4 separate regions of the Homo sapiens genome follow, and regions 2, 3 and 4 are each reported to be linked to region 1. The links are microRNA targets in miRTarBase. Many come from high-throughput screens and were not tested one by one. Region 1 holds a microRNA gene; each other region holds the end of a gene's coding sequence.
What was found. Region 1 holds the annotated microRNA hsa-miR-8062 (CAGUGAUUUGAGGAUUAUUGC, at 3,473-3,493, opposite strand). A microRNA usually pairs through its seed, bases 2 to 8, with sites in the 3' UTR of a target mRNA and lowers its output. Matches are read on the target gene's strand: a 7mer-m8 pairs with bases 2 to 8, a 7mer-A1 pairs with bases 2 to 7 and ends in A, and an 8mer does both.

Region 1 (7,774 bases):
ACAGAGTCTTACTCTGTCACCCAAGCTGGAGTGCAGTACCACCATCATAGCTCATTGAGGCCTGGAACTCCTGGGCTCAAGCAATCCTCCTGCCTCAGTCTCCTAAGTAGCAGGAACATATAGGTGCATGCCACTGTGCTCGGCTAATGTTTTGTTTTGTTTTGTAGAGACAGGGTCTCACTATGTTGCTCAAGCTGGTCTTGAACTCCTGGGCTCAAGTAATTCTCCTGTCCCAGCCTCCCAAACTGTTGGGGTTGCAGGTGTGAGGCACCACACCTGGAGTCTGTTATATTATTCTTAATATTGACTCATTCAAAATACACTGTGCAATTGCTCTGAACAACAATAATGCTAGGCTAGGGATATCAATGTGATCCTGTAACTGAACAAATTAAACACACAAATGTTTAGATACAGAAATAAGAAGGTAGATTTTTTTTGCTTGCAATTCACAATCATGTGCCTCATAACAACATTTAGGTCAATGATGGACTTCATATACAATGATGATCCCATGAGATTATAAGACAGTATTTTTACTGAACATTACCTATGTTTAGATATGCTTAGATACACAAATACTTACCATTGTGTTACAGTTGCCTACAGTATTCAGTACAGAAACATGCTATACACGTTTATGGCTTAGGAGCAAGAGACTATACCATATAGCCTAGAAGTACATCTAGATTTGTGTAAGTACACTTTAGGATGTTCATACAAGGGCAAAAATTACCCAACTGCACATTCCTCAGGAGGTATTATCCCCCTCATTTAGCAACAAATGACTGTAGTTTTGTTTTATTGGATTTTTCTAAATGATTATTAAAAAAACAGAATATTTTATGAAGACAAAGGTAATGACACTAAAGTGAAGGCTTCTTTAGAAGACAGGTCAAGTCACACAATTCTTTAGTTTAGAAGGTTGAAGTGGAAATATTGAGTGTTACAGACCAGAACTTCTCAACCTTTAACATATATATAAATCATGATCTTGTCAAAATGCACATTTTGGTTGCAGAGGACTTGGATGAGGCCTGAGATGCTGCATTTGTAATAAACTCTCAAAGGATACAGGTGCTCCTAAGTGATGTACTGAATTCGGCAAATAAGAGTCATCTGTGGCCTGGCACAGTGGTTCATTCCTATAGTCCCAGTACTTTGGTAGGCCAAGGGGGTGGATCATTTGAGTTCAGGAGTTCAAGATCATCCTGGCCAACATGGTGAAACCCCGTCTCTACTAAAAATACAAAAATTAGCCGGGCGCAGTGGTGCGCGCCTGTAATCCCAGCTACTTAGGAGGCTGAGGCAGGAGAATTGCTTAAGCCTGGGAGGCAGAGGTTGCAGTAAGCACCATTGCACTCCAGTCTGGGCAACAGATTGAGACCATGTCTCAAAAAAAAAAAAAAAAAGCCATGAAACAGTATGCTGTTCAGGGTTTACGTATTATCTATTTACGTATTTCAAAAGCCTTACACAGTATGTTGACTTATAGAAGTTCTCAATGATTATTATGGTGATAAAGTTTCCTTAGAGAAATTTTATCCCATGACTCTTAATATTTTGATCATATCTACCCTGTAAAAATCAATAAAAAAAACATGGTCTGACAAGCGCCAAATTTTTATTCAAATGCATGTATCTTTGCACTTTCTAAATTCCTTTCACAGGGCTTCTAAGATTCTTAAACCTCTTAATTTTTATACATGCTGACACTGTTAATGAGCAGAAATCTTAAGTTATTACTGTAAATTCCAAAGTTGATCATTGGTAGAATTTTTATTATCTCCCAAATCTGTAAATTTTGAATGATTTTTTCCCATGCCTTCTATTATACTGTACTCTTTTTCAGAAAGGAATACATTTTCCATTCCCAAAAAAGAGGATGGATTCTATTGCATAAACCTAAATGAGCTGACTACTGGGAGTTATAACTTTGTCATGGGTTTACTGGCCTGGGAATGTACAGTATAAGCGTGTGTTGTTCCCTAGGGGAAAGGTTTAAGTGCAGCTAGGACCACCTGTTGCTAAATGTTTCCTTGAGTAGCTCTTAGTACAAAAGGGGATGTAACCATTAATGTGTAGTTGCCTTCAGCCAAAGTGAAGTGGGGAGTATATACTTTTATGCAGATGACATTAGCACATAGACATTTGCATCCTAAGATATCAAAAGAATTAGTGACATTCTCCCTTTCTCATTCTCAATAGGGTTATACAGCTGTAGCAATTGCCTGTGGGCTATAAAAATAGACACTAGATGTTCTGGACCATGGGCTTATGAACCATGGGTACGGAAGAGTATTTTGAAAACCCTTCATGTGTAGAATCTGAAATAAATGTGCTTGTTGAGATTCAATAATGTTTGCCGATACCCATGTAGGTGCCGGGGGAACCTAAGGAAGAACCTTAGGGAGGCTGCCTTTTTGTGTGTGGAAGTGGAGGGAATGTTTCAGGACTTTTCCCAACAAAATTCAGAAAGAAAATCTCTGAAAATTGTTTTGGTGAACCCATGACAACTATTTCACTGTACTGACAATTTAGAAAAACAAGACACACGCACACACACACACACACACATTTCCCAGAGCAAAAGTGGACATGAGAGTATCTAGAAAGAGAAAGTGATTTCTCACAACACTGCTTCCATATTGAACTCTTTAATGTCTTTTGAAAAGCAAGGTCGGCCTCAGAACCATGCAGGCCTACAAGAATTCAACCATTTGTTGGTCTTTTGTTAAGATATTGATTAGATTCTTGTTCATTTCTTTGCAAGCCTCCCAGTTTAGTCTATTGATTTGTCTAAGCTTTTTTTCTTAGAGTCTTGAACTAGGTCATCGGAATAACTCTTAACATTTAACTAGAGTCATTAAAAATAAACAGACATTTGAGAATAGTGTAATTGGTTGTGAAGGCATTTCCAAGGTGGAAAGGCCAAAGGTGGCAAGGCAAGTCCTTGTGGGCATGTTGTCTTTGAGACCTGACTTACTCTGCAGTTCTCCAAGACAACTAAAGACTTCCTATAGCTTCAGGCAATAATTTGTCCGAAGACTGTTGTAAGAGTTTGGCTAAAGAAAACCAGAAAGCCTATGAAAACATGGCTTACTAGTAACACATCCCAGCTGTTTGCTCCCTGTTAAAAAGTAGAGAATGATGTGTTCTGGAACGGCTTAAGTGCTCTGCTGTGTATGTTTTTAGAACTGTACAGAGTCTTAACAGCATGAGTCCTGTTCATTTTAATCAGAGTTGTGTGGTTTAAACTTGTCTCTGAATCCAGCTTTTTGCTATTGATATGTCATGTTTAGTGTATAGTCTCTGGAATTAGGTTATTGCCAAATTTCTATTGTGTTTTTGGTGATCATGATCCCTGTGATTTTCTTACTCATCCAACTCAAGTAGAAAGATATCTTTACATCTCCTGTTAGAGCATAGGTTCTTTGAAGACAATATATTACTCATGTTTTTCTTACCGTGAGCAATAATCCTCAAATCACTGCATGCATAAGAGCAGCAGAAGAATCACCTGGAAGGCTTGATAAATCACATATCACTGGGATGCTGCATGAGAGAGTGTGATTCTGTTGGTCTGGGGTGGAGTCCAAGAATCTGCATTTTTAACAAGCTCTCTGCTGCCAATTCTGAGACCTCATTGAAATAGCACTGCCTTGGAGCCCTGCTCCACAGCCCTATCAGGCCACTAATTATATAAGATATTTTATAACACAGCCTTTACTACTCTAAAATGAAATCCATAGATAATATAAACTACCCACATACTTATCTTTAAGTCAATATAATGGTCTAATTATATTGTAAAAATAAATTGCAAATGAAATTAAGAGGAAAATAATTTATGATAAAATAAGTATTTCAACATGTCAATGTTTGGACATAACTACATTGGAAGATATAATTAAGTTGTCATGCTTATACTCATTCATAGGATCACCTTAAATGTCAGTTACAGATGTAGATATGTTGTGTAGCTACTAAAAATAATGACTAGGGTTGCCTTCTGTGATGTGATTTTCTGAAATAGCAAAAAATTATTGAGAAATTGCCAAACAAAATAAAGAATATATTTTCTCAATGTGTCTGGTAGTTGCTATTAATACAGTGTAAAAGAGATACTTTGTATTTATATGTAAAATGAATTTAAGTTTTAGGCTTAATATATAAATATGTTTTTCACCCACATGAATGTCACATAAGACCAGGTTCATTCTTCATTGTGTGAGACTATTCCGCACATTGTAGAACATCTACAACTCTAGGTCCTACTCACTGAATACCAGTAGTGCACCTCAATCTCCAAGTTCTTCTAATGCCTAAGGATACACCTTAACTAGTATATCTTCTTTTTTTTTAAGTTCCGGTGTACATGTGAAGGATGTGCAAGTTTGTTACATAGGTAAACATGTTCCATAGTGATTTGCTGCACCTATCAACCCATCACCTAGGTATTAAGCCCAGCATTCATTAGCTTTTTCTTCTGATGCACTCCCTCCCTCCACACCCCCAAAAGGCCCCAGTGTGTGTTGTTCACCTCCCTGTGTCTATGTGCTCACATTGTTCATCTCCCACTTATCAGTGAGGACATGCTGTGTTTGGTTTTCTGTTTCTGCATTAGTTTGCTAAGGATAATGGCTTCAGCTCTGCCCATGTCCTTGCAAAACACAGGATCTCATTCCTTTTTATGGCTGCATTGTATTCCATGGAGTAAATGTACCATATTTTCTTTATCCAGTCTATCACTGATGAGCATTTGGGTTGATTTTATGTGTTTGCTATTGTGAATAGTGCTGCAATGAACATATGTGTGCATGTGTCTTTATAATGGAAAGATTTATATTCCTTTGGGTTTATACCCAGTAAGGGGAAATGTGAGAAAATCTTTGCTATCTATTCATCTGACAAAGTCTAATATTCAGAATCTACAGGAATTCAAACAAATTTACAAGAAAACCGATTAAAAAGTGGACAAAAAAACATGAACAGACACTGCTCAAAAGAAGACATTTCTGTGGCCCATAAACATATGAAAAAAAGCTCAACATCACTGATAATTAGAGAAATGCAAATCAAAACTATAATGACATATCATCTCACGCCAGTCAGAATGGCAATTATTAAAAAGTTAAGAAACAACAGATGTTGGTAAGGCTGTGGAGAAACAGGAACACTTTTATACTGTTGGTGGGAATGTAGATTAGCTGAACTAGTATATCTAACCTTGCTATCTTTAGTACCTTAAAGATAGTATTTATTTTAATTTATTATTTTAAAAATTGAAGAGAAATGCCCTCCTATGCTGAGTAGAGATTGGTTATCAGACTCTTTTTTCTTGGATGTATTTTATCAAGTCACTGTTTCTTTAAAAATAAAAACTCAACAACAATGATCAATGGTATTTTTCTTTACACTAGTTATTTTTACCTAAAATGGGTGTTGGACATCTTCATCATTGTGCCTTTGCATCATTATTTCAATCAGCTTGTAAATCAGCTGACAGCAGAGTAGCCTTTGAGTCACACTCAGCAGCTGGACTGGGAAAATGGCTTGAGTCCAATTGCATCCAGCTGTGGTCTATACCTAGGTTGTTGGTTTGCCCTGATTTGCCTTGGACAGTTCTAGTTTACACCTGTGGTTTTGCTGTAATTATAAACAATTACATTCATTCTCAAAAGTGTCTCTATTTGGATAATAAATTATATTGTCACCCCAGTTATACCTCACTAATAATACCAGGTGCTAAAGAGATTGTTTTTTTACTTTGTGTAAGATAAGAAATAAGTTTCTAAATGGAAACACCATGGCAAAATTTTCTGCAATAAATCAAGACTTGGTAATTCTTAATGTTCTGAGATTTTAATAAATTACTCTATATAGAAGCGATTTACTATAAACTGAGTAGGATAGGGTATTTTCATTACCAACCATCTTGATGTAAAACACTTATTTTTTTTACATCTTTGTGACCTTTTCTTAGTCTGACTGTGTACAGTCATATCCCAGAACATTGAATGTGTGCCATCTGCTTCCTCTGAAATTTAATGGCTAGGCTGAGGTTCACTGAGAGAAATTAAGAGGCTGTGACTTTTCTTTTGTCCAAGTCTTTGAAAGGAGCAATCCACATCCAACCTCATGTTCTTAAATCCTTTCATCTATGCACTGGATCTTGGAAGGAAACTCGGATGTTAATATGACCATTTGGTGGTTTCAGCATCAGTCTTGCTGCCCTAATCCTCTTTTCTGGAGTTAGCCTGGGAACCCACAAATCTCTAAAGTGCAGCCTTTCTCCATGCTTGCCTGGATCTTACAACCAAATTTCTGAGGCTTCTCAACTATTTCTACTAAATCTCAGCCTCTTTAGTGAATCTTCAAATACCTCTCACTTTCTCTTTCTTTCCCGTGTCTCTGATAATCGTCTTTATTCCTGTCCTTATATCCCAGGCTCTGGCAGAGTTTATTGCTTAATTCTGTGTAGTTATCTCAGTAACAATGGGCTGCCAGTTATACACATACACACACACACACACACACACACACACACACTCTCTCTCTCTCTCTCTCAAAGAGCAATAATTGCTTTAGGTTTAAATATATTTACTTAATTGTGGTCTAAAGTCAGTTTTTATTTTTCTCTTAACCTGATTTATCTCAAAGTAATTCACAGATAGATCTTAGTCTCTAAGGTAAGAATTAAATGACACAATATGTATAAAGCAACTAGCACAGTGTGTGGTACAATGTAAATATTCACCAGGACAAAAATATTATTGATAGTAGTAACAGTTTTTTCGTTTATGATAAGTGAATTTTCTAGGTCCAAATTTCAGGGCAACCCTTACTACAGCACTGGAATGAGAGAAGCATTCCATGGGATGGCTTCTTTAAAAAAATCATGTTTCCTATATAAAAGCACTAAGTCCAAAACCCCTCCAATAGCAAAACACTCCAGGTCATTGCTGTCCTATAGAAATTTCTGCAGTAATGAAACTGTTCTATATCTGGGCTCTCCAATATGGTAGCCAATGGCCACATGTGGCTATTGAACATGTTGTATGTGGCCTCTGTGGCTGAGGACCTGAATTTCTAATCTCAACCACCTTAAATTTAAATTTAATTGCATGTGATTAGCAGTTATAATATTAAAGAGCCCAGCTCTACAAAGATCATCTTGACTAATAGATGTTTATTAACAATATTGTCCCTTATTCTCTGCATACTTATTAGGTTGCATATTGCACTTTTATTATAACCATCTATTTGATTTTCCCCTTCAACGCTTCAGCACTCATTCATTTTAACCAGCTGCCTCCTGCATCAAATTCTTGGAGTAATTAGCATCTCAAAATGAAAGTTACCTTTGACCCTTCGTAACAGTTGTAAGATTATTCCCCTCTGGAGAAACTGATGACCTGTTTGCACAGCTCTTCGTTTAGTGGTTTCAATGTGAACTGTGAATGCTTGATACCTTGGCACACCAAAGGGATGCAAATACTGTGTCCAAGGGCGTCCTGCCAGGGTTGTGTGCGGGTCACCCTGACCCAGCCAGAAAGCTACAGATACCATGGCACATAACCTGGGTCCTTATTGAAGGAGTAGTTTTAAGAAATTAGCCAATCTTTTTATAATAGAGAGTTCTCACAAGGCTCAATGATAAATATTTATGCTTCTTGGGCCATCCGAATGGCAAACGACTTCCTTAACTTTGATAAATGCATTCCTCTGCTGTAATGATGAGAGTCACATGCTCTGTTGGAAAAGATCTAGC
Region 2 (7,774 bases), not on the chromosome of region 1:
ACGAGGCCTCCGAGCCCCCGGCGGGCGGCCTGCACCCCGCGCCCCTGCAGCTCGGCCTGGGCCGCGAGCGCCTGGGCGCGCCGGGCTTCGCGTGGGAGCCTTTCCGCGGCCTGGAGCTGCCACGTCGCGCCTTCCCCGCTGCCGCCCCCGCCCCGGGCTCCGCCGCCCTCTTGGAGCCCCCGGAGCGCCCCTACCGCGACCGCGAGCCCCACGGCTACAGCCCCGAGCGCCTGCGCGGGGAGCTGGAGCGCGCGCGGGCCCCGCACCTGCCGCCCGCCGCCCCCGCCTTGGACGGCGCGCTGCTGCCCTCGCTGGGAGCCCTGCACTTCCCGCGCCTCTCGCCCGCCGCGCTGCACAATGGGCTCCTGGCGCGGACCCCGCCCGCCGCCGCCGCCCTCGGCGCACCGCCCCCCCTGGTGACGGCGGCCGGGCCCCCCACGCCCCCCGGGCCGCCGCGGAGCCGGACTACTCCGCTGGGGGGCCTCGGGCCGGGCGAGGCGCGCGACTACTCCCCGTCCCGAAATCCCCCGGAGGTGGAGGCGCGGTAGCCCCGGGGCCGCAGACGCCTCTCCGAGCGGAGCGCACCGCTGTCCGTCTCTCCATCAGTTCCTAGAACTCAAGCACAGCTCCCGCCGATCCTGGGGCGGCGCCGCCTCTCCACCCGCAGCCTGCGGAGGCGGGGACTTGGGTGTCGGCTTTTCTGAGGGTGATCTTTTGTTTTCCGAGTTTGGGATTCGGCTGTTGGGAAAAAAAAATCGCGTTTGTACCTTTTCCCCCCACAGATGAGAAGTGTTTGTAATGGATTTGTATTTTTCTTAATTTTATGCTCTTTAGACGTTTAAAAGAACCAAAAAAGAAACTTTTGCTTCTTCGTTTTCGGTTGGGATTTGCAGTTTAATGGCCTCAGATCCTTCTCCAGATCCCCAGGGTTTCTTTGTCTTATTTATGGAGAAAAACCGGTCACTTTGTCCAGCGCACTGTGAGGCCCCCACTCAGGCCAGCCCTGGCCCCCCCTTGGTACTTGGAACCGAAGTTACAGATTATATTAAAATAATAATGTACAAAACTTTGTTTTTTTGCCTTATTATGCAGAAGTGTAATTTCTTTTTTGGTTTGTTTTTTTAAAAGCAAACGAAACGTGTAAATAGTCTGTTGATATAAATATATGACGTTACTAAATTCTTAATCTAGATAGACTTTATAAAAACCGTTTCCAGAAACCCCTCTGGTTGTTTGTCTAACATGGTCACAAAAACCCAGGCGCTGCTGGCTGTAAACATTATCAGAAGTTTAATGGCAGCAACTTTCCTTCAACTATGCAAGCGCTTCCCGGCGGCTCTGCTGGTTGGGGGAGGAAGGTTCCGCCAGCGACCTCCCAGCCCCTGGGTCCGTGGAGGGGTTGGGTCCCCCAGCAGAGCCCCTGGGCCAGCAGAACAGCACTCCTGGGCGGCTCCTGTGGGCTTCAGGACTGGCCGGCTCCAGCCGCAAGGGCGATGCTGTGGACGTTTGTGTGGATGGTGCAGTGTTCTTGGAATCTGTAGACCAGATCGGTGGAGGTATAGAAGTGCAAGAGTCTAAAGGCTGATTTTACACACACACACACACACACACACACACACACAAAATCACTGCTGTGTGTTTTCTTCCGCCTGAGGCATCAGCGTCACCTCGGTGTGGTCGTCGCCTCCCAGGCCCTTGGCCTGGCCTCCTCTCAGTTTGGGTTTTGCCCTCACCCACATGAGCCCCCCCATGCCCTGCCCCCCTTGCGGCCTTTTGTGTTCCCCGATGTCTGGGCTGTGTCCCTGCCGGGATTCCCAGCCTTCGGGGTCAGCCGTCGAGCCACTTGCTTTGCTCAGTTCTGTGTTTCAGCCACATTTCCACGGTGGACCCTGTTTGTTTTAAATATTCTGTTCCCATGTCAATCAGTGACGATAAATACAGCCTTGATTTGGATGAAACTGTGGTCGCGTGTTCTGTGGTGTTGGGGGGCCAGGCTCACCCAGGCTGACCCCTGCAGCCGTGCGTCCCTCCTGCAGCACCTTGGGATGCTGGGCGCCTCGGCGGCCCCACGCTGTCCGGTGCCATCGCCCCGGAAGTGAAGCACAGCAGGTCCCAGCTTCCCAGCCCTGCTGCCACCCCGGCTCTGCCCAGCCCCCTCCCCCAGTGCCACCTCTCCCGGTGGAAACCCCAGCTCCTGGCTCTGCCGGATGCCCCATTGTGCTCCTTCGTTCTTGGGGGTGTCACGCGGCCTCCCGTCGTCCCACCCCCAGCGACCCCGCTGGCCGCCTTCCCTCACATCCACGGGGTTTTCTGCATAGAAGGTGCTCTTAGTTCCCGCCTTTGTGCCAGAGAGTTCTGGCCCCGCAGGGACTTGTGGGATTGGCTTTGCCCTGGCTGTGCCCGAAGGAACAGGAGCTCAGAGGGCAGGAGCCAGGTGCAGAGGTGGCAGCCCCCACCCTCCAGTGCAGTGAGCGCCAGGCCCACCTGCCTTGAGTGATGGTCAGGAAAGCTCCAGGTGCACACCTGGCCTTGACCTGAGTGTCACCCCCACCCTGTCCCTGCCAATTCACTCCTCACTAAGGGGCCCCAGGGCTGCAACCTAAGAAGGAGGCCTCGTGGGCCCACCGCGCGCCCAGCAAGGAGTGCCCTGCGTCCCACAAGACCCTTCCAGGCTGGCAGGAGGGGCAGGTCCCAATCCACGCCCCACCAGGTCATTGTCTGGGGCCTGGACCATCTGCCATGTGGGGCTTCTATATAAGGGTTTGCTTCCTATGGAGTCAGCCCCACCACCCTGCAGGCCTGTGTGTCCCAACTTGGGCTTCAGCCTTTACGGTGAGCTGCCACTTAGCGATGGGGAGACACTGGGAAATGTGTCATGCGATTTTGCCACTGTGTGAATATCACAGCGCGTGGCACACACCTGGATGGGGCAGCCTATTGCTCCTGGGCTGCACCCCATGTGACTCCTGAATCCCATCGGCAGCTGTAACCCGGCGCATGAAAAGGTACAGTAAGAATGCAGCATTCTGGCCAGACGTGATGGCTCACGCCTATAATCCCAGCACTTTGGGAGGCTGAGGTGGGCAGATCACCTGAGATCAGGAGTTTGAGACTAGCCTGACCAACATGGTGAAACCCCATCTCTACTAAAAATACAAAAAATTAGCCGGGCGTGGTGGCGCTCGCCTGTAATCCCAGCTGAGGCAAGAGAATCGCTTTAACCCAGGAGGCAGAGGTTGCGGTGAGCTGAGATGGCACCACTGTACTCCAGCCTGGGAGACAGAGGGAGACTCTGTCTCAAAAAAAAGACAGAAAGAAAAGAATCCAGCATTCTAATCTTCTAGGGCCGCCCCTGCCTATGCAGCCTGCCCTTTCCCACAGCGCGGCTGGACGGCACATGGCTATGCTTCACGTCCCCTTGTCTTGGTTATTCCAACCTATGCATCTAATCTTCAGGAAGACCCCAGGAATGCATATTCTGCCCTGAGTGAGCTGATTGTGTTAGTCACCCACACAGGCCTGCTCTGCCCTGGGGCTGGTCTGACCCAAAGCCCCAAGGCCCCTGCAGGGCAGCCCAGCAGCGAGTAGGAGGCAAGGCCAGGACCCAGCGGCGAGGAGGAGGCAGGGCCAGGGCCCAGCGGCGAGGAGGAGGCAGGGCCAGGGCCCAGCGGCGAGGAGGAGGCAGGGCCAGGGCCCAGCCCTGTGGCCCCAGAGATCTGGGAACATACCTGTAAAGCGCAGCTGGAAGGTGGTCAGCAGTGCGGCTGGAGGGAGGGCGGCAGTGCGGCTGGAGGGAGGACGGCAGCTGGAGGGTGGACGGCAGTGCGGCTGGAGGGAGGGCAGCAGTGCGGCTGGAGGGAGGGCGGCAGTGCAGCTGGAGGGAGGGCGGCAGTGCAGCTGGAGGGTGGACGGCAGTGCGGCTGGAGGGTGGACGGCAGTGCGGCTGGAGGGAGGACTGCAGTGTGGCTGGAGGACGGCAGTGCAGCTGGAGGGAGGGTGGCAGTGCGGCTGGAGGGAGGGCGGCAGTGCGGCTGGAGGGTAGAGAGCAGTGTGGCTGGAGGGAGGACAGCAGTGTGACTGGAGGGAGGGCAGCAGCTGGAGGGTGGACAGCAGTGCAGCTGGAGGGAGGACGGCAGTGCAGCTGGAGGGAGGGTGGCAGTGCAGCTGGAGGGAGGACGGCAGTGCAGCTGAAGGGAGGACGGCAGTGCGGCTGGAGGGAGGACGGCAGTGCGGCTGGAGGGAGGACGGCAGTGCAGCTGGAGGGTGGGCAGCTGGAGGGTGGGCAGCACTCCAGGGCCATCCGCTGGCCAGAACTACCTGCGAGCCCAGGGATGCCATGTGAAGGAGTGAAATGGTGAAATGTCCGCCTTTAAGTCAAAGCACACAGCCTGCATTGAGGCACAGAGAAGGGGGGAGGGGACCCCATCCAGGCAGTCCCTCTGGGCTGCCTTCCAATGTAGGGCCAGCCCTGGCACTGAGGCAGCCATCCCTCCCCAGGCATCATCCTTGAGGGGAGTAATCTCTGATGGTGCAGAATCCAAGGTAGACTTCTTCCCAGGAGCACTCTGTGGGGGGTACACTCCTGGGAGCACTCTGTGATAAGAGTACCTTCTTGGGAGCATTCGTGAGGGAGCACCCTCCTGGGAGCACTCTGTGAGGAGGGGCACCTTCCTGGGAGCACTCTGTGAGGGAGCACCCTCCTGGGAGCACTCTGTGAGGGAGCACCCTCCTGGGAGCACTCTGTGAGGAGGGGCACCTTCCTGGGAGTACTCTGTGAGGGAGCACCCTCCTGGGAGCACTCTGTGAGGAGGAGCCCCTTCCCGGGAGCATTCTGTGAGGGTACACGCTCCTGGAAACACTGTGAGGGGGCACACAGCTCAGAAGGTCAGCAGTCCAAGCAACCCACCCCCTGGCCCTGGAGGATTTTGGTCAGGCTATTTCCATCTCACCTGGTAACTTAGAACTTGGGCTAAGTTACCCTCCTGTAAAACTTGGAACCTGGGTAACTTAGAACTTGGGTAAGACTGACCCTGCTGTAAAAATCAGGAGTTGAAATTCTACTTTATTTCAACAAGACCTGAAAGATGCGGTCAGGCAAATGGAAGTACATCTGATGTTGACAGAAAAATAAAGGTTTTAATATATGTTTTAACATTCTATCCTTCATAGAATAGATACAGGGTTTTAAAAACACTCAACCTGGGTGACATTTGTCAAGCAGCTGCAGTGACTCCTGGCCAGCCCAGGAGAGAGAGGAACAGCATCAAAGTCCATTCTGTTACTACGAGACTCAGGGCCTGGCACGCAACAGGGGCCAGGTGTGTCCTGGACGGGCAAAGGCACCGAAGAAGGAGGAAGCCTCCCAGACGCCCTGCTGGGCTCCTCCTGGCAATGCCTGGACCCCTCACCAGCAAGGGAGTGGAGTCCCAGGACAGGCATGGACCCTGGAATGCCCTGGGTGTCCAAACTAGCCTGTTCTCCGTGCCTTGTCCTCAGGTGGCCACCTCTGTGTCGGGGCTTCCCCTGCTCTCTCGTGAGGACTAGTCTGCGTTTACACTCTACCTGGGTAATCCAGGAAAGCTGCACAGCCTCCACATCCTTACTTTAATCACATTTGCTCAGACGTGGCCTTCTAGGTGACGTACTCGCAGGTTCCAGAGATCGTGCCATGGAGATCTTCCTACCACTGACGGGAACCTGGAATTCAAGGATCTTGACGCAGGCTGTAAGTATTCACAGCTGACAACGCTGAGTTCTCTGCAGCGTCGGCTGGGATCCTATCCACAGCCCAAGGGCACATGGCGCTGCTGGGAGAGGCCAGTGGCCAGTGCTCTTGTGTCCAACAGGCTCTACACGCTGGGGAAGGCCCAGAGAGAAAGGAGTGTGCCTGCAAGTACAGGATCTATGACCACGACGCTGTCAACACACAGGGTTTTCCCACAGGACACGTGTTCTGGAGGCAGAGGTTCAGGAGGTGCTGCAGGAGCTTGAGTCAGGCCTGGCATTTCTGTGATTCTCTTGGCCTTTCCTTGCTCATTGCCTCATAGTTATGAAATAGCTGCTGTAGCTCCAGGCATTACATCCACCTGCCAAGGAGAGAGATCAGTGAAGGGGAGATGGTGAGTGCCAACCTTGTCTGGAAAGACAGGGCCTCCCCAGGGTTCCCCCTCACCACCAGAGGGTCTCTGCTGAGGTGTCATCGGCTGACACTGGGGGGCCTGCACCCCTCGTCAACAGGGCAGGGGAGGTGGGCCGCACCTGGCCTGCTGGCTAAGGGCCCAGGTTCTTGGTGGGAGCTGGACTAACCCAGGGGCCTTTGGGAAACCTGAAGGTCATTTTACATCCGGCATCCGCACACCTGAGACCTTCATGGACTTCAAATCCACAACATTTTACTATAAATTATTTTTATTTTTCTGTTATACCACAGTTTGGGGCTTATATATTTGGGGGCCTTAGATATTTTTTCCCTAAAATTATATGTGAAGCTTTTAAGAACTGAATTTCATTTCTAGATAGAAAAGAAAGCATCATAAAATATTTACCATGAAGGCTTCAGACCGACTGCCTCACACTGACCCCAATTCCTTCCTTCCTGGGTGGTCTCGGGGCTGCTCGGAGCTGAACAGGGTCCCCTTCGACAGGGTTCGGGGGGATGGATGTGGCCTTGCTGAACACAGCAGCAAACAGGAAAAGAGGCCTCATGGAAACAGCTGAGCCCGTGTGGCCCCCTGGAAACCTCACCCCAGCCCCACGAGAGGCTCAGCATCCAGCCGCCAGGCCGGAGGGTTCTGGGGGCAGGGAGGGTCAGAACCACATCTCGTAATCCTGCAGCGGCTTGCGGCTGAGGATTGTGACCGCCTGTCCCCCCACCCTGCCACTAGGGAGGCCACCAGGACACGGCTGCCTCCTAGTCAGGAAGAGGCTCGAGGGCTGAGTTGACCAAGCAGGGGCCAGGTGTCTGCACCTGGGCGGCCCAGAGGCTGCATGGTCCCTGGGCCTGACACTCACGGCTCCTGTTTCTGCCCCAGAGAAGCAGATCTGGCACCCCTGCTCATCAAGTTCAACGTGTAAATGGAAACAGCAACTCAACTGTTGGGATTTCCCTCCTTTACATTTTTGTTCTAAAATTTTTTTTTTGGAGACAGAATCTCGCCCTGTCACCCCGGCTGGAGTGCAGTGGCGCAATCTCGGCTCACTGCAACCTCCGCCTCCCACATTCAAGCGATTCTCCTGCCTCAGCCTCCCAAGTAGCTGAGATTACAGGCAGTAGCTGAGATTACAGGTGCCCACCACCACGCCTGGCTAATTTTTTGTATTTTATTAGAGACGGGGTTTCACCATGTTGGCCAGGATGGTCTCCACCTCCTAACCTCATGATCCGCCAGCCTCGGCCTCTCAAAGTGCTGGGATTACAGGCGTGAGCCACCACACCCGGCCTAATTTTGTATTTTTTAATAGAGACAGGGTTTTGCCATGTTGGCCAGGCTGGTCTCAAACTTCTGACCTCAGGTGATCCACCCACCCTGGCCTCCCAAAGTCCTGGGAGTACAGGCGTGAGCCACTGCGCCAGCCTAGATTTTAGAAAAAGAAATTATAGGACTGATGCATGTTCCTTGTCACAAGCAAAAGAATCCATGAGTGATCAGGAAAGCAGCCACTCCCTCTGGGGACACTACCTGTGCTGTGGAACCGTCCGAGGGAGCTGGACTCCTCATGCTCCAGGAAGAACCGCGGGTGCTCCATGATGCCAGCCCCTGTGGCTGTGTCCGGT
Region 3 (7,774 bases), not on the chromosome of region 1:
TTATTTCTTTAAATATTCATGATCTGGATCTAAAACAACAAAACTCAACTCACAGTCATTCTTATTTCCTTTACGTGTTGATATTTTCCACCACATCACAGGGGACTTTTGCCCAGGGTTTATAAGAAGGTCATTTGAATTGCTTTACAGCTAAGAACCACCTTAGGAATTAACTGTGGGGCCTCCTATTAATCTTGTTGTATTTATGCAGTGTTAACATTGGTTCTGGGTTCCTTATGATTTTTGAATTTAAATGGTTTCTTCTAGTTGGTGATTCTGCTCTAACCCACAGTTTCTCTGAAGATGCTGAGAATTAATTTATCTGCTGTGTTTGTAACCCAAAATAAAAGCAAAGATAAGAACAAAGGAGGTGAAACATCTGGGACACTGGAGATACCTGTGGACCAAGACTAATTCAGCAGCACTCCCATTCTGCTCAGAGCTAGATAATAAGCTATGCTGACACATGAGGCATTCACAGTGGCACAGTTGCTCAGAGTGACAGTCATCCCTTGGTAGAAAATGTTTTAATATGAAAACTTAGTAGATGTAATGGCAATTTTCTTTGGGAATAAATTGGTCTCTGAATCATACTCTAAAAACATAAAGGAAAAATGACTAATAATTCAGCACAAAATGAAAACCTGTGGTTACCTAAGAGGTATCAGTGTGCATTTAGCAATTTCTTCTTTTTCTAGGTGAATAAGCATGTCAGGTCCACAAGACAAATGGTGGCTGTTGCCAGGCTTTCTTCCCATTGCTACTCAAGATTTGCTCCTCAGAAAAAGGAATGAGTGGCATTTCACCAATATGGAAATGTTTCCAATAGAGTATAAAAATCCATTAAGCAATTTTCCAGTACATTAGGCTAAAAGTGCTTAAAACGAGTATCTCTTTCTGTGACAATTAAACATCACACAATTTGCAGTCGTATAATACCCCTATGTACAAAGTGCTCGGTCAACTTGGCCTATTTTAGTCATTACTTTTGTACTTATTTCCATGTGTGACCTGGTACAGTCAAGGCCACTTCTCAATTATCTGGGAGAGAATTTCCTAATTTGAGGGTCACTCAGGCTTTCATTAAGAGTCATTCTTTTGAGCAGTTTGTATAGACTCAATGAAAAAGCCAAGCAACCAGTTTTCCTTATAGCCAGCTTTAACAAAGCACGTGTGGTTTGAGAATCTTGACTCTGGATAAAAATGACAAGTTACTAAAGAGAAGTACTGATAACTTCTTGTCTACTTCTCTGTTTCCAACCTTTATTGATTTATAGATTTCAAAGACCATGACTCAGGGAGCATAAAAATGTGGAACTCTGTATGCAGAGGCTCATTCCAGCATTTTGGGAGGCCAAAGCAGGAGTATCGCTTGAGACCAGGAGTTCGAGACAACCTGGGCGACACAGTGAGACCCACATCTCTATAAAAAATACATACATTTTAAAAAAGTGAACATGAAGGCTGAGCACAGTGGCTCATGCCTGTAATCCCAGCACTTTGGGAAGCCAAGGTGGGAGGATTGCTTGAGCCCAGGAGTTTGAGACTAGCCTGGGCAACAAAGTGAGACCTCATCTCTGCAAAAAATCAAAAAATAAGCCAGATATGGTGGTGTGCACCTCTGTTCTCTGCTATATAGGAGGCTGAGGCAGGATTGTGTAAGCCCAGGAGGTGCTGCAGTCATTGCACCACTGCAACTCCAGCCTGGGAGACAGAGTGAGACTCTGTCTCAGAAAACAAACAAAAAAAAAAACAGTGGAAATGCTCACATTGAGTAGCTACTTTTGAAAGTTACACAGTATAAATCAACTATCATTCAGATCTGACATCCCTTCCGTACCCTATATTTTTCATCTTTAACCCTTTAAGCCATTCTTCGGTGAAGACAAATAATCACTGAATGTCGGCTTAGAAAATGTGTAGGTGATATGCATGGGTGGAAGACTTTCAACTAATAGTATTAGGAAAACGCTACAACTCTAGCGGGGAATAAGATCTAGAACATTCCGAAAGCAAAAAGATTGCTATAGAATGATTCCAATTATTTTAATGCCATGTAAGATGCCATTATAGAAACTGACAGTGCTCCAGTTCCAGCAACACGAATGAGGGAAATAAAAATATTTCACCCCAAAATATATTTGTCATATTTTCAGATGGCTGTTCAGAGAGCCAAAAGAAGCAGCCCTGCAAAGCTGTCTTTTTTGGAGAAAACTTGCATTTGCAGAGAATCTGCTTGATGCAGCCAGGCCTTCCCTTGTCTGGATCTCGGGAAGATTAACTTAGTCTGACACTTTAAAGGTCTGAAACATGCTGGACATGGTGGCTCACATCTGTAATCCCAGCACTTTGGGAGGCCGAGGAGGCCAGATCACCTGAGGTCAGGAGTTCGAAACCAGCCTGGCCAACATGGTGAAACCCCATCTCCACTAAAAATACAAAATTTAGCTGGGCATGGTGGCACATGCCTGTAATCCCAGCTACTTGGGAGGCTGAGGCCAAGAGAATCGCTTGAACCCGGGAGGCGGAGGCCACAGTGAACCAAGATCGTGCCATTGCAATCCAGCCTGGGCAATAAGAGCGAGACTCTGTCTCATACAACAAAAAAGGTCTAAAACATTTACCATCTATTCTTTTGAGGGCTGCCACCTGTGGGGCTTCATTTACATAACAAGACCACCTTTGCTAGCCAGGCTTCCCCTTCTCCAGCTCCCCGAACATGTTATGCCACTGATCCGAGCCCACACTCTTTTTGTAACCTTTAGGTGGTATTTAAGCTTCTAAACCCTATTGGGTGGGGGTTTGGGGGGTAATCACTCTGTAGCTCTCCCCTTCATGCAAGCTAATATATTGGTATGCCTTTTCTCCAATTAATTTGCCTTTTCTCAGTTGATTTTTCAGTGAACCTTCAGAGGGCAAAGGGGAAGTTTCCCCTTGGTTCCTACAGGAACCTAAGACCCACAGAGTGATGGAAAAAGGAAAGGCTTTGGAGCCAGGCAGGCCCAAGTTTGAATCCCAGCTGTACTGCTTATTCGCTGAACAACCTTGGGCAAGTCAGTTATCCTACTTAAAAACAGGATAATGTTAACTTCACACAGTTGTTTCAAGGATTAGCATTAATGTAGAAAATCAACTCATCAGGCATTGAAAAAATGGTGGCTATCAGTATCAATGATCACATCCCAATCCAGTTATGGACCTAACTTTAAGACTGCTGCTAAATCCCAGGGAATGAGTTCTGCAGGAGCAAGCAGTCCTGGCCTCAAGTCCGTATATTTGTGCATGTTCCCCATTTTGTTTTGCCATTTGAACACATTTTCAGCATGTCTAGTGATTCACCTATAAATGTCTTCTTCAAGTGGATCTCAGCCTGCACATGCTGCACATTCTGAAACTCACAAGAACAGTATCCTTGCTCCCCACATTGATTTTGGTCTTGTCTTCCACCTTAGAAAACTAGTATATGGTATAATACAGTATTAAAGTTTTAAAGTACTAACTTTATACACAACACTGCCCTCTAGCGACTAGAATAATTTTTTTTTTTTTTGAGACGGAGTCTCGCTCTGTTGCCCAGGCTAGAGTGCAGGGGCACGATCTCAGCTCAATGCAACCTCCACCTCCCAGTTCAAGCAATCTTCCTGCCTCAGCCTCCGAGTAGCTGGGATTACAGGCACGCACCACCACACCCAGTTAATTTTTTTGTATTCTTAGTAGAGATGGGGTTTCATCATGATGGCCAGGATGGTCTCAATCTCTTGACCTCGACCTCGTGATCCGCCTGCCTTGGCCTCCCAAAGTGCTGAGAATTACAGGCATGAGCCACCACGCCTGGCCTAGAATAATTCTTTCTAGTTGTCTGTTCAGCTGCTCTCTGGGTAAAAATTAAAAATTCTGTCATAGATTGTCTTGAATGTGTTGGCTGACATTAGAGAAATGGAAATCATAACTACAATGAGATACCACCTCATGCCCAATAGTAATTTGAACAACAATTTGACAATTCTTTATAATATTAAAGTTACATGATCCAGCAATTCCACTCCTAGAATTTAAAACCTGTCGGCCAGGCGCAATGGCTAACGCCTGTAATCCCAGCACTTTGGGAGGCCGAGGCAGGCAGATCACGAGGTCAGGAGATCGAGACCATCCCGGTTAACACGGTGAAACCCCGTCTCTATTAAAAATACAAAAAATTAGCCGGGCGTGGTTGCAGGCGCCTGTAGTCCCAGCTACTTGGGAGGCTGAGGCAGGAGAATGGCCTGAACCCAGGAGGAGGAGCTTGCAGTGAGCTGGGATCGCACCACTGCACTCCAGCCTGGGCGACAGAGCAAGACTCCATCTCAAAAAAGAAAAAAAGAAAATATATATATATATATATATTTAAAACCTGTGCACATAAAAACCTCTTCTATAATGTTCATAACATTATTTTTAACAGCCCAAAAGCGAAAATAATCCAAATATCAACTGATGTATGGGTAAATACAATGGAATATTATTCAGCCATAAAATAAAATGATGTACTGATACATGCTGTAACATGGATGAACCCTGAAAACATGCTATATCAAAGAAGCCAGTTCCAAAGGATCATACATTGTATGAACTTTTATGAAATGTCCAGAACAGGGAAACCCATAGAGACAGAAAGTAGACTGGTGATTCCCAAAGACTGGAGGAGAGAAATGGATTGACTGCTAATGGGAGGTTCTTTTGGGGGTGATGAAAAATGCTATAAAAAATTGATTTGGTGATGGTTGTACAACTTTGTGGATATTCTGAAAACCACTAAACTGTACACTTTTAAAAGGTGAATTTTATGGTATGTGAATTATATCTCAATTTTATTAAAAAACGGGAAACAAAAAAAAATGGGAAACAAAAGTGTTGGCTGTGTTGGGATGGCCATTTAGTAGTAACATGTTAGGCACATCTCCCCTTCAATATAACCTCCCTGACCCCAGCCCCCAAAGTCTTAAGAATTTGGCCTCCATAATCTTCTTAATATTTATTTCTTACAATTTTTTTTTTTTTACTATAAGCATGTATTACTCATAATAATGGGAGGTAGATCCAAATTTTCAAGGAATAATCTGAACTTTTATAACAGAAACTGTACTTAAGAACACTAATAGAGGTTGGCTGACACCCTGAAAAACTGGTCTGTTACGTTTAACTGTGGGCCAGTCAGCTTCAAACTCAGGAAAACCTCTCACCTCAGTTGCAGGGGAAATGGGCAACAATAATAGTAGCTACTGCTGACAGGCTGGGCCCTGTGCTTAACTCCATCTATCATCTCCACCAACTATCCCACATGGCATGTGCTACCACTATTTTACAGATCAGACCGTTTACATAACTGAGACCGAGGATGCACATACGCCCCTCCCCTGAAACGCAAGTCTCACTGAAGGTAGACTAAGATGCCACCTTGGTGTAAATAACAAATTACAATAAACTCTGACTCAGATACTGAAGAACAGTCTAAAAATATTCATTGATAAAAGGTAGGTGTTCAAAGATGACCCAACTTCTATTTTCGCCTTCAATAATTGTTACACAGTTAAAATACAGTGACAAGCTGCTTCCACATGGCTATAGGTAGGGATTTGTTATCCAAATGCAAATCTATCTAGGTCTGAATTTCTAAAAGTAGAATCTTTTTTTTTTTTTTGAGGTGGAGTTTTGCTCTGTCACCCAGGCTGAAGTGCAGTGGTGTGATTTCAGCTCACTGCAACCTCCCAGGTTCAAGAGATTCTCCTGCCTCAGCCTCCCAAGTAGCTGGGATTACAGGTGCCCGCCACCATGCCCGGTTAGTTTTTGTATTTTTAGTAGAGATGGGGTTTCACATGTTGGCCAGGCTGGTCTTGAACTCCTGACCTCAAGTGATTCGCCTGCCTCAGCCTCCCAAAATGCTGGGATTACAGGCGTGAGCTGCCACGCCTGATTTAAAAGTAGAGTCTTTAAATAACCTTCCCAATACTTCTTTCTTGAGACAGGGTCTCGCTCTGTCACTCAGGCTACAGTGCAGTGGTGCAATCTCAGTTTCTCACCATAACCTCCAGCTCTCAGGCCCAAGCAATTCTCCCACCTCAGCCTCCCAAGCAACTGGGACTACAGGGCCAAGTCACCAAGCACAGCTAGTTGCACTTTTTTTTTTTTTTTTTTTTTGGTAGAGATGGGGTTTCACCATGTTGGCCAGGCTGGTCTTGGACTCCTGACCTCAAGTGATCCGCCTGCCGCAGCCTCCCAAAGTGCCAGGATTACAGGCATGAGCCACCGGGCCCAGCCTACTTCTTGAATTAAAAAACAAAAAACAAACAAAAAACCCAGGCAGATAATGAAATCCTGCATACACTCAAGTCTGCATGAAGCATAAGGCCAAACTGGAAAGTGGGCATTTGAACAACCCTCTTCCTGCTCCCTTCCCCTAACTAAGATGGGCTTCTGGGCCTATCAACCATTCTTTGGTAAAGAGCAGCAATTCCCCATAGGCTCTTTAACAACAGCATTGGTGTTTGAGGTTGCATCTTTAAAACATCTATTTCAGGATTTGGAAGCTTCTGGAACCATAACTTTAACCCAGCCTTCCATAACAGTCTTTTTACTTTCTATTACAGAACATGACACTGCAATAATAGCAATGAACCGCTTCAGCTTTTTCACTTCTGCAGAAGCTAAAACAACTTCTCCAATATATAAAGGGGCTGGAAAGCTAATTTCCTGGGAAAGAAATACACAGCCTGGCCCTGGCATTTTAGTTCCTAGGAGAGCTGAGATAAGTCCGTTGATCAAAACTCCATGTACAATTGTATTTCCAAACTTGGTGTGTTTTGCAAAGTCTTCATTCAAATGCAAAGGATTGACATCCCCTGTTAATTCTGAGAAGGTAGCCACATCAGTCTGTGTGAAGGCCCTCCTAAGTTCAGCGCGGTCTCCAACTTTGATGTGCATATGCTGAAAGTGCTGCAGGGTCAGCACTGGCAGGTTCAGACAGACTGTCCTCCGAAGCCCACCCCACCAAAGGTGATGGCTGGAAATTAGTGGGAACATCTTCAGCACCCTCAAATTTCATCAAGAGCTTTTAGCCTGCTTCAGTCTTCAAACATGCAGGCACCAAAAAATAAATATGAGAGTGGATGAACGTTTCCAAAATGGAAGACTATTCATTCAATCCAATACTAGTTCCCTACTATTACCAGATAATGCAAGAAGAAATGGAGAAACCTAGAAGAGAAAGAAAAAGGTTAAGGCATTGGGAGAAACCACACTGAAGCACAGGGCAATGGGGAAACATGCCCAGTTTTACAGGATAAACAAAGCTGATGCAGGAGCATTTTACAGAGCATCCTGAGAGGAAGCCTTCGATAACAAGTGGTCACATCTCAAAAAGAGCGTACCAATATATAACACACAAGGCATTAAGTGTTAAATAAAAAAAGTAAGCCTTAACCACAGGGTTGCAAGTTTTATCCCAAAACATCTCCCATAGATTTTAAAATCTAAGTGCTCTGTCTCACATTTTTGGAAACAATCAAGTCCTTTATTTTCCCCTACTTAGATCATTTTAACCATATTACATTTATGCAAGCACAAAAATGAGTTGTGTATATTAAGAAGCAGTTGACCCATCACTCAGTCTTGTTTGGAATATGTGAGGGAATAGTCTTTACCTGAATCACCCGGAAAGCACATTTTTTGCCTTTATAGGATCCTAACAGGGTCAAAGAGCTCCACAATTTGACAAGACCACTGCAGAAAGATCAAGAAA
Region 4 (7,774 bases), not on the chromosome of region 1:
TCCAAGTAGCATGTGAACATTAGTCCTGAATACTTTTCCAGAATGAGATAGAAAAGAACCTCTCAAACAAACAAAAGTTCTCTAAAAAGGTAGGGAACGATGGTTGGCTACAGTTTGTTAAAGATTCTTATTTAAAAGTTTTCTACAACTTTTATAGAAAAACTAAGTTATTTCCAACATTAGATTACATTTCTCATCTGTTATCTTTGTATTTTACTCACAGGGTTAGACAGACTGATATGCCTTGTCACTGGATCTCCAAGCATCAGAGATGTCATAGCCTTCCCAAAGTCCTTCCGGGGACATGACCTCATGAGCAATACCCCAGATTCTGTCCCTCCTGAGGAACTGAAGCCCTATCATATCCGAGTCTCCAAGCCAACAGACTCCAAAGCAGAAAGAGCTCATTGAATCATGCATACCATGCAGAAAGTTGAGCTTTTAGGTTTTGTCCTCTTTGCTTCCCCAAGGCTAAAGTCAGATCTAGAGTTCTGCCACAGGTCTAACAATCAAGTCTTTAGATGGAAGGAATCCAGGCAACATTCTTCACCACAACGAAGAAACAGATAAAAGATACCCAATTTTGACTTGATTTCATGCATCATTTGGATTTTTTTTGGTTAGGACTTTTTTTGAAGTTCCTTTTTACTTAGGTGTGAAAGATGGTTCTTTGTTGAAATAATATAGTGGTTTAGTGTTTTCAAATCATGTTTCTCATACCCAGATAGTAGATTATTCACTTAGGACAGAGGTAATCAAATTATGTGTGAAATGTAGGAAAATGCTTGCCCCTGTAAACTAGTGAGTTGATGGAGCATTTGCTTCATCATCCTCATCAAGAGAATCATATAAATTAAGCTTTATAATGACATTTCAACCATCAACATAATATAGTGAGGAGTAGCATAATATTTTTTAATAATGCAGAAAACATCACTGAAATGAGAGTCACAAATTTTTCTTCAGTGTTTCAGCCTGAGTAAGTTACATAAACCTCGCTTAGCCTCCCTTCCTGCTAATGTGTAAAATACATACTTGCCCTGGCTACCTCACCGGGCTGTTATTGCTGGAATCAGAGGAGATAACATATATGGAAGATAAAGTGAATAAAAGTACTTTGAAAAACTATAAAGCATTCCACAAATATGAGATGATGGTATTATCCATCCATAAATAGGTAGATATATCTCTATTTTATAGTTTCAGATTAAACAAAACTGATATCAATAGTAAAAGTCATTTTACTTATCAATTTTCTGTTTTTTTTTTTAGTTTTAAAGATATTATTGGCCGGGAGTGGTGGCTCACACCTGTAATCCCAGCACTTTGGGAGATTGAGGTGGGTGGATCACTTGAGGTCAGGAGTTCAACACCAGCCTGGCCAACATAGTGAAACCGTCTCTACTAAAAACACAAAAATTAGCCAGGCATGGTGGCGCATGCCTGTAATCGCAGCCACTCGGGAGGCTGAGGCATGAGGTTTGCTTGAACCTGGGAGATGGAGGTTGCAGTGAGCCAAGATGGTGCCATTACACTCCAGCCTGGGTGACAGAGCAAGACTCCATCTCAAAAAAAAAAAGACAACAAAGATATTATTAATCACTGAACACTATTTTCTCTCAATTATAAGTAATTGAAAATTCTAATCAACCTTAGATTAACCTCAAATGTGCGAAAAAGTGAACACCAAAACTCATTGTGATTTTAAGTTCTAATCATACACATAAAAGTTTTAATAAACTAATAATTATAAAATGAGGCCGGGTACAGTGGCTCACGCCTATAATCCCAGCACTTTGGGAGGCTGAGGCAGACAGATCACAAGGTCAAGAGACTGAGACCATCCTGGCCAACATGGTGAAACCCCATCTCTACTAAAAATACAAAAATTAGCTGGGTGTGGTGGCACATACCTGTAGTCCCAGCTACTCAGGAGGCTGAGGCAGGAGAATCACTTGAACCCAGGAGGTGGAGATTGCAGTGAGCCGAGGTTACACCACTGCACTCCAGCCTGGCAACAGAACAAGACTCCATTTCAAAAAAAGACAAAATGAGAACAAGGTCTTGATCAGTGATTTTGAAATTGTTTTCTTCTACTCAGTCTTCACTTCTGCCTTGAAATTCTTTTGATTTATACCTTTTTTTTTTTTGAGACAGAGTCTCGCTCTTTTGCCCAGGTTAGAGTGCAGTGGCACCATCTTGGCTCACTGCAACCTCCACCTCCTGGGTTCAAGTGATTCTCCTGCCTCAGCCTCCTATTTAATTAATTAATAATTGATTTAATGATTTAGTTTAAAATGTTAAATTCATTTTAAAATAACCCATTACATGTTAACACAAATAGCATGTTTTTATTTTATTTTATTTTGAGACAGAGTCTCACTCTGTTGCCCAGGCTGGAGTGCAATGGTGCGATCTTGGCTCACTTCATCCTCCACCTCCCGGGTTCAGGCAGTTTTCCTGCCTCAGCCTCCTGAGTAGTTGGGACCACAGGTGCCCTCCACCACACCTGGTTAATTTTTGTATTTTTAGTAGAGACGAGGTTTTGCCATGTTGACCAGGCTGGTCTCAAGCTCCTGGCCTCAGGTGATCCGCCTGCCTCAGCCTCCCAAAGTTCTGGGATTACAAAGGCGTGAGCCACCACACTCAGCCATGTTTTTATTTTAAAAATAATTATTTTCAAAAAAAAAATAGAAGAGTAACATTGTTTTATATTTCTGCAAATATTTTTTATTTCTGGCTTAATAGAAGACACTAGATTCTGATATCTGCTTCTGTATCCTATCTGTTGTTATATGCTGTTTTGGTTGAAGTCTGTGAAGAAAATCTGACCCCACTCATATATAAAGTTGGAAAAGGGAGGAGTATTTTAATAGCTTTGTCTGATAATTATGGATACTCTCTTTGATACCACACCAAAATATGACAAGTAGTAGAGTTCCTTAAAGGCTAGTTGCAATGTGGATTCTGAAATCGTATTGATGAGCTTTTCTAAAGTCCATTGGTGTACCTTGTATTTAAATAGAACTTTTACCTATGTGTGATATTTGTAACACCAGTCCAGTGATTGATCATTTGGAAAATATTGGTTCACTGAGTTATGCAAATCTTCCAAATGTTGACACATTTTGATATACAATATCTAAAACAAAATACCATTAATTAATATTACCACCAATCCCATTACAAAAGTCTAAGTCTGAGGAAGCTATAAGGGCACAGAAGTGTATACAAGCCTTCCAAAATTTTAGGTTTCATTTGGAAGCTTGAGTTTTATCATTGGCAACAAATGCCATCAGTTTTTTCCAAGCTGACTTGTTCTTTTTTGAGCAAATCTCTGCCAAAATTACCCCTAAAATATGAATAATCAATTTGTCAGGTTTTTTCAAACTAAAAATGTTCTGTGAAAACAAGCAGCTAGTTCAGCTTGTATCTCAAACAATTGTAACTACTTTTTCTAGGGAAAAAAAAATCTAGACATCCATACTTTATGGCAGATGTGCTTCATGCATACTTCCCATTTTGTCACACAGAATATCAAAATAACGTGTACTCAAGGTCAAGATTTACTAACAACTAAAATTCCAAAACTGCTAAACAACAGAATGCTGAATAAGGTGATCCAATTTTTAATATTTTATTTGAGACAACATCTCACCCTGTCACCCAGGCTGGAATCCAGTGGTGTGACACAGCTCACTGCATCCTCAACCTCCTGGGCTCAAGCGATCGTCCCACCTCAGTCTCATGAGTGGTTGGGACTACAGGCATGCACCATCATGCCCGGCTCACTTTTTTTTTCTTTTTTTTTTTAATTGTAGACACAGGGTCTCACTATGTTGCCCAGGCCGGTCTTGAACTCCTGGACTCAAGCAATCCCCCCACCTTGGTTTCCCAAAGTGTTGGGATTACAGGCATGAGCTACTACATACAACTGAAATCTTTTAATATGCTTGTCAAAAAGTTTTCTGATTCAGCAAATGGCACTTATATATAAAAGAGAGAACAAGAAGCTGGATGCGGTGGCTCACGCCTGTAATCCCAGCACTTTGGGAGGCTAGGTGGGCAGATCACGAGGTCAGGAGTTCGAGACCAGCCTGGCCAACGTGGTGAAACCCCCTCTCTACTAAAAATACAAAAATAGCCAGGCATGGTGGCCCACGCCTGTAATCCCAGCTACTTGGAAGGCTGAGGCAGGAGAATCGCTTGAACCTGGGAGGTGGAGGTTGCAGTGAGCCAAGATTGCGCCGCTACATTCCAGCCTGGGCAACACGAGCGAAACTCCGTCTCAAAAAAAAAAAAAAAAAGAATAGAACTTGGCTGGATGCAGTGGCTCACACCTGTAATCCCAGCACTTTGGGAGGGCAGGGCAGTTGGATCACTTGAGGCCAGGAGTTCAAGACTAGCCTGGCTGACATGGTGAAACTCCATCTCTACTAAAAATACAGAAAAAAAAATTAGCTGGGAGTGGTGGCACACACCTGTCATCCCAGCTACTCAGGTAGTTGAGGCACAACAATCACTTGAGCCTAGGAGGCCCAGGCTGGAGTGAGGTGGCACGATCTTGGTTCACTGCAACCTCCACCTCCAGGGTTCAGAGTAGCTGGGACTACAGGCCCACACTACCACACCCGGCTAATTTTCGCTTTTTTTCAGTAGAGACCGGGTTTTGCCATGTTGGCCAGGCTGGTCTCGAAGCCTGAGCCATAACCTGGCGAAAAGATACTTTGAAATGTAACATCGTTTTTCACTTCAAAATCAAGGTATTTTACCAACTTGTCTTTGGTACCTCCCCAAAAACTGATCTACTACATTTGCAGTTTCATTCATTTTTCCAACATTAAGGAATAAACTTGAAGCGCTTACATTCTTGTGGGGGAAGTAAGAACAAAACACATAATAGGTCATGGTGGTCACATGAAAAGTAAAGGGTAACCGATTGGGGTAGGTGGTGGTAGTTTTGTGTGTGTGTTTTTTTTTGAGACCAAGTCTCGCCGTTGCCCAGGCTGGAGTGCGGTGGCATGATCTCAGTTCACTGCAACCTCCACTTCCTAGGTTCAAGCAATTCTCCTGCCTCAGCCTCCTGAGTAGCTGGGATTACAGGTGCACGCCACACCTGGCTAACTTTTGTATTTTTAGTAGAGATGGGGGTTTCACTATGTTGGTCAGGCTGGTCTCAAACTCCTGACCGTGTGATCCACCCGCCTCGGCCTCCCAAAGTGGTGGGATTACAGGCATGAACCACCACGCCCAGCCTTCTTTTTTCCTTTGAGAAAGTCTCACCCTGGCACCCAGGCTGGAGTGCAGTGGCAGGATCACGGGTCACTGCAACCTCAGCCTCCCAGGTTCAGTTCCCCTGCCTCAGCCTCCCGAATAGCTGGGACTACAATAGCCCACCACTACACCCGGCTAGATTTTTGTATTTTTAGTAGAGATGGGGTTTCACCATATTGGCCAGGTTGGTCTTGAAATCCTGACCTCAGGTAATCTGCCCACCTCAGCACCCAGCCAGGTGGTGGTAGTTGTTTTACAGCCTGTGTGAGACATTCGGGTGAGCCCCAGGAAATGAAAGAATGTGCTTATTTGGGGGAGGGGGAGGCCTTTTTTCTTAGACAAAATTGGGCATTCCCAACTTACACGCATTTAGTGCATAAGCTGACATTTCAATGAGATTGTGAAATGACAATGGGAAGGGCCCTGAAAAAAACATCAAGCATAAAAGGCCTGGGAGGCCGGGCACTGCGGCTCAGGCCTGTGAAATCCCAGCACTTTGGGAGGATGGGGTTTCGTCTCTACTAAAAATACCAAAATGAGTTGGTTGTGATGGTAGGTGCCTATAGTCCTAGCTACAAGAGGCTGAAGAGAATCGCTTGAACCCGGGAGGTAGAGGTTGCAGTGAGCAGCGGTTGAGATCATGCCATTGCACTCCAGCCTGGGCAACAGGATTCAGTCTCAAAAAAAGGAAAATTCAGAGAGTAACTGAAGTTTTATCATTAATGGGACTAAAGTGCTTTAGCCCAGAAACAGATTTGTAAAACCATTACTGCTAACAAAGACATCATTATAAGCACAGCTGTACTGACACTGAAATTAAAATTTGACCCATCTTGGAATTTTGGCCCCTTGGTCCTGTTTCCCTGGGACAGATTGCCTTAAACCAGTTGTGCCCTTTATACCCACTTTTGGCATCCCTAAACACTTAGTGCTTGCCAAAAACCTATCACCATGGCTATGGATTGTAGATTTTCCCAATTCCATTAATGCCTATCACTAGTTGGGCATTTCTATAGTATTTTCTATAACTTATTTTCCCAGCCTCAGACTCAACATGACTTTCTCCAAGTAGCTCCATCAATACTTTAAGCTCAAAACCAATTAGCACAGGGGCCTATGAAACCTGACAATTTGCTCATATGGAGAATTAGGAAATATTGCACTTTAATGCATAAGACACCTTGTAAAATACCCATAAAATTTTAACTGGCTGCAGTGTTAATGAAGCAAATACCATGGAGTTATAATAGCTTTTGAATGTGATTTATGCTTACAGCTAATGAACAGATGAAAAGCACTGTCCTTTTTTAAGTAAACACTACACACTCCAGATGGATTGCAAAAATTTATTAAAATTGGAGACACTGTTTTAATCTTCTTGTGCCATGAGACTCCATCAGGCAGTCTACAAAGACCACTGGGAGGCTGAGGATCACTTGAGCCCAGAAGTTTGAGGCTGTAGTAAGCTTCAAAGGCCACTGCACTCTAGCTTGGGTGAGGCAAGACCCTGTCTCAAAAAATAAGACAAGACTTTTAGCCACATTTACAGACTTCAATTAAAATGCTACATGGGAATGCAGAATATCAGATATTTTATTGTCATCAAGTAATCAGTGAGAGAGTTCAAGTTGGATTGAGATCATCATGTATTCTGCAATTATAATAGTCCCAACATTTCCAATCCTCACCTTTCAAGCAGTAAGCTGCATGCTTGCTTGTTGTGGTCATTAAAAACCCTGAAAGCGAAGCCAACATATTAATCAGGGCAAAATACAAATGTGTGATGCTTGTTAGTAGAGTAACCTCAGAATCAAAATGGAACGGTTTTACAGTGATATCATTATATTTCATTTGGCAGAATCATTACATCATTGGTTACACTGAAAATCATCACATGTACCAAAAGCTGACTCACCTAGTTTAGGATAACAGGTCTGCCTGTTTGAAGATGAAAAATAATACCCATTTAAAATTTGCCCTACTCAATTTCCTTCTCAGTCACATTTTAACTTTTAAACAGCTAATCACTCCCATCTACAGATTAAGGTGTATATGCCACCAAAACCTTTTGCCACCTTAAAAATTTCCTTCAAAGTTTAAACTAACCTGCATTTCTTCAATCATGAATTCTGAGTCCTGAAATTAAGGGACAATACACAGTAAGACAACTTGCATACAATTAGGAGTAATCCAAAATCTCCAAACATTATAGAATGGCTATATTCCCCTTTTCGGGGCATAAACTAGAATGTTACCGCCAGATACATCAGATAGGAGCGAAAGACTTAATATTGCTCATCAGCGTTAGTCTGCTGAACTATGTTATCATCATTGTATCGGCTTTACAACACTTAAAAACCAGACTTGAGGCGGGGCATGGTGGCTCACGCCTGTAATCCCAGCACTTTGGGAGGTCAGTGCGGGCAGTATCACTTGAGGTCAAGAGTTCGAGACCAGCCTGGACAACATAGCTGTACAAAATTAGCCAGGCATGGTGTCA

Region 2: the mRNA of FBRSL1 is a reported target of hsa-miR-8062. Seed matches in the 3' UTR shown: 7mer-m8 at 1,624-1,630.
Region 3: the mRNA of RPP14 is a reported target of hsa-miR-8062. Seed matches in the 3' UTR shown: 7mer-m8 at 5,888-5,894.
Region 4: miRTarBase lists DARS2 as a target of hsa-miR-8062. The part of its 3' UTR that is shown has no 7-base or 8-base seed match.

What each region holds. Positions count from the first base shown.
Region 1 is chr20:7,367,337-7,375,110 of GRCh38, reverse strand. It overlaps MIR8062 (microRNA 8062), which reads right to left and starts at 3,503; the gene lies at 3,419-3,503. LINC01706 (long intergenic non-protein coding RNA 1706) reads right to left here. Exons shown (of 3, transcript NR_110610.1): 3 at 6,610-7,774.
Region 2 is chr12:132,583,231-132,591,004 of GRCh38, forward strand. It overlaps FBRSL1 (fibrosin like 1), which reads left to right. Exons shown (of 19, transcript NM_001367871.1): 19 at 1-1,958. The coding sequence ends at 548. Among named protein-coding and RNA genes, the nearest start is that of MIR6763, 5.1 kb to the left of the region's middle.
Region 3 is chr3:58,316,896-58,324,669 of GRCh38, reverse strand. It overlaps RPP14 (ribonuclease P/MRP subunit p14), which reads right to left. Exons shown (of 6, transcript NM_007042.6): 5 at 7,677-7,755; 6 at 4,477-7,230. The coding sequence ends at 7,174. HTD2 (hydroxyacyl-thioester dehydratase type 2) reads right to left here. Exons shown (of 5, transcript NM_001348712.2): 4 at 7,677-7,755; 5 at 4,477-7,230. The coding sequence starts at 7,056. The coding sequence ends at 6,550. Among named protein-coding and RNA genes, the nearest start is that of PXK, 12 kb to the left of the region's middle. RefSeq lists an enhancer at 1,926-2,687.
Region 4 is chr1:173,857,295-173,865,068 of GRCh38, forward strand. It overlaps DARS2 (aspartyl-tRNA synthetase 2, mitochondrial), which reads left to right. Exons shown (of 17, transcript NM_018122.5): 17 at 224-1,252. The coding sequence ends at 411. It overlaps GAS5-AS1 (GAS5 antisense RNA 1), which reads left to right and starts at 5,954. Exons shown (of 1, transcript NR_037605.1): 1 at 5,954-6,647. GAS5 (growth arrest specific 5) reads right to left here. Exons shown (of 12, transcript NR_002578.4): 9 at 7,381-7,410; 10 at 7,190-7,212; 11 at 6,963-7,010; 12 at 6,607-6,781. SNORD81 (small nucleolar RNA, C/D box 81) reads right to left here and starts at 6,928; the gene lies at 6,852-6,928. It also overlaps SNORD47 and SNORD80. RefSeq lists enhancers at 3,620-4,336, 4,337-5,053 and silencers at 4,107-4,257, 5,305-5,434.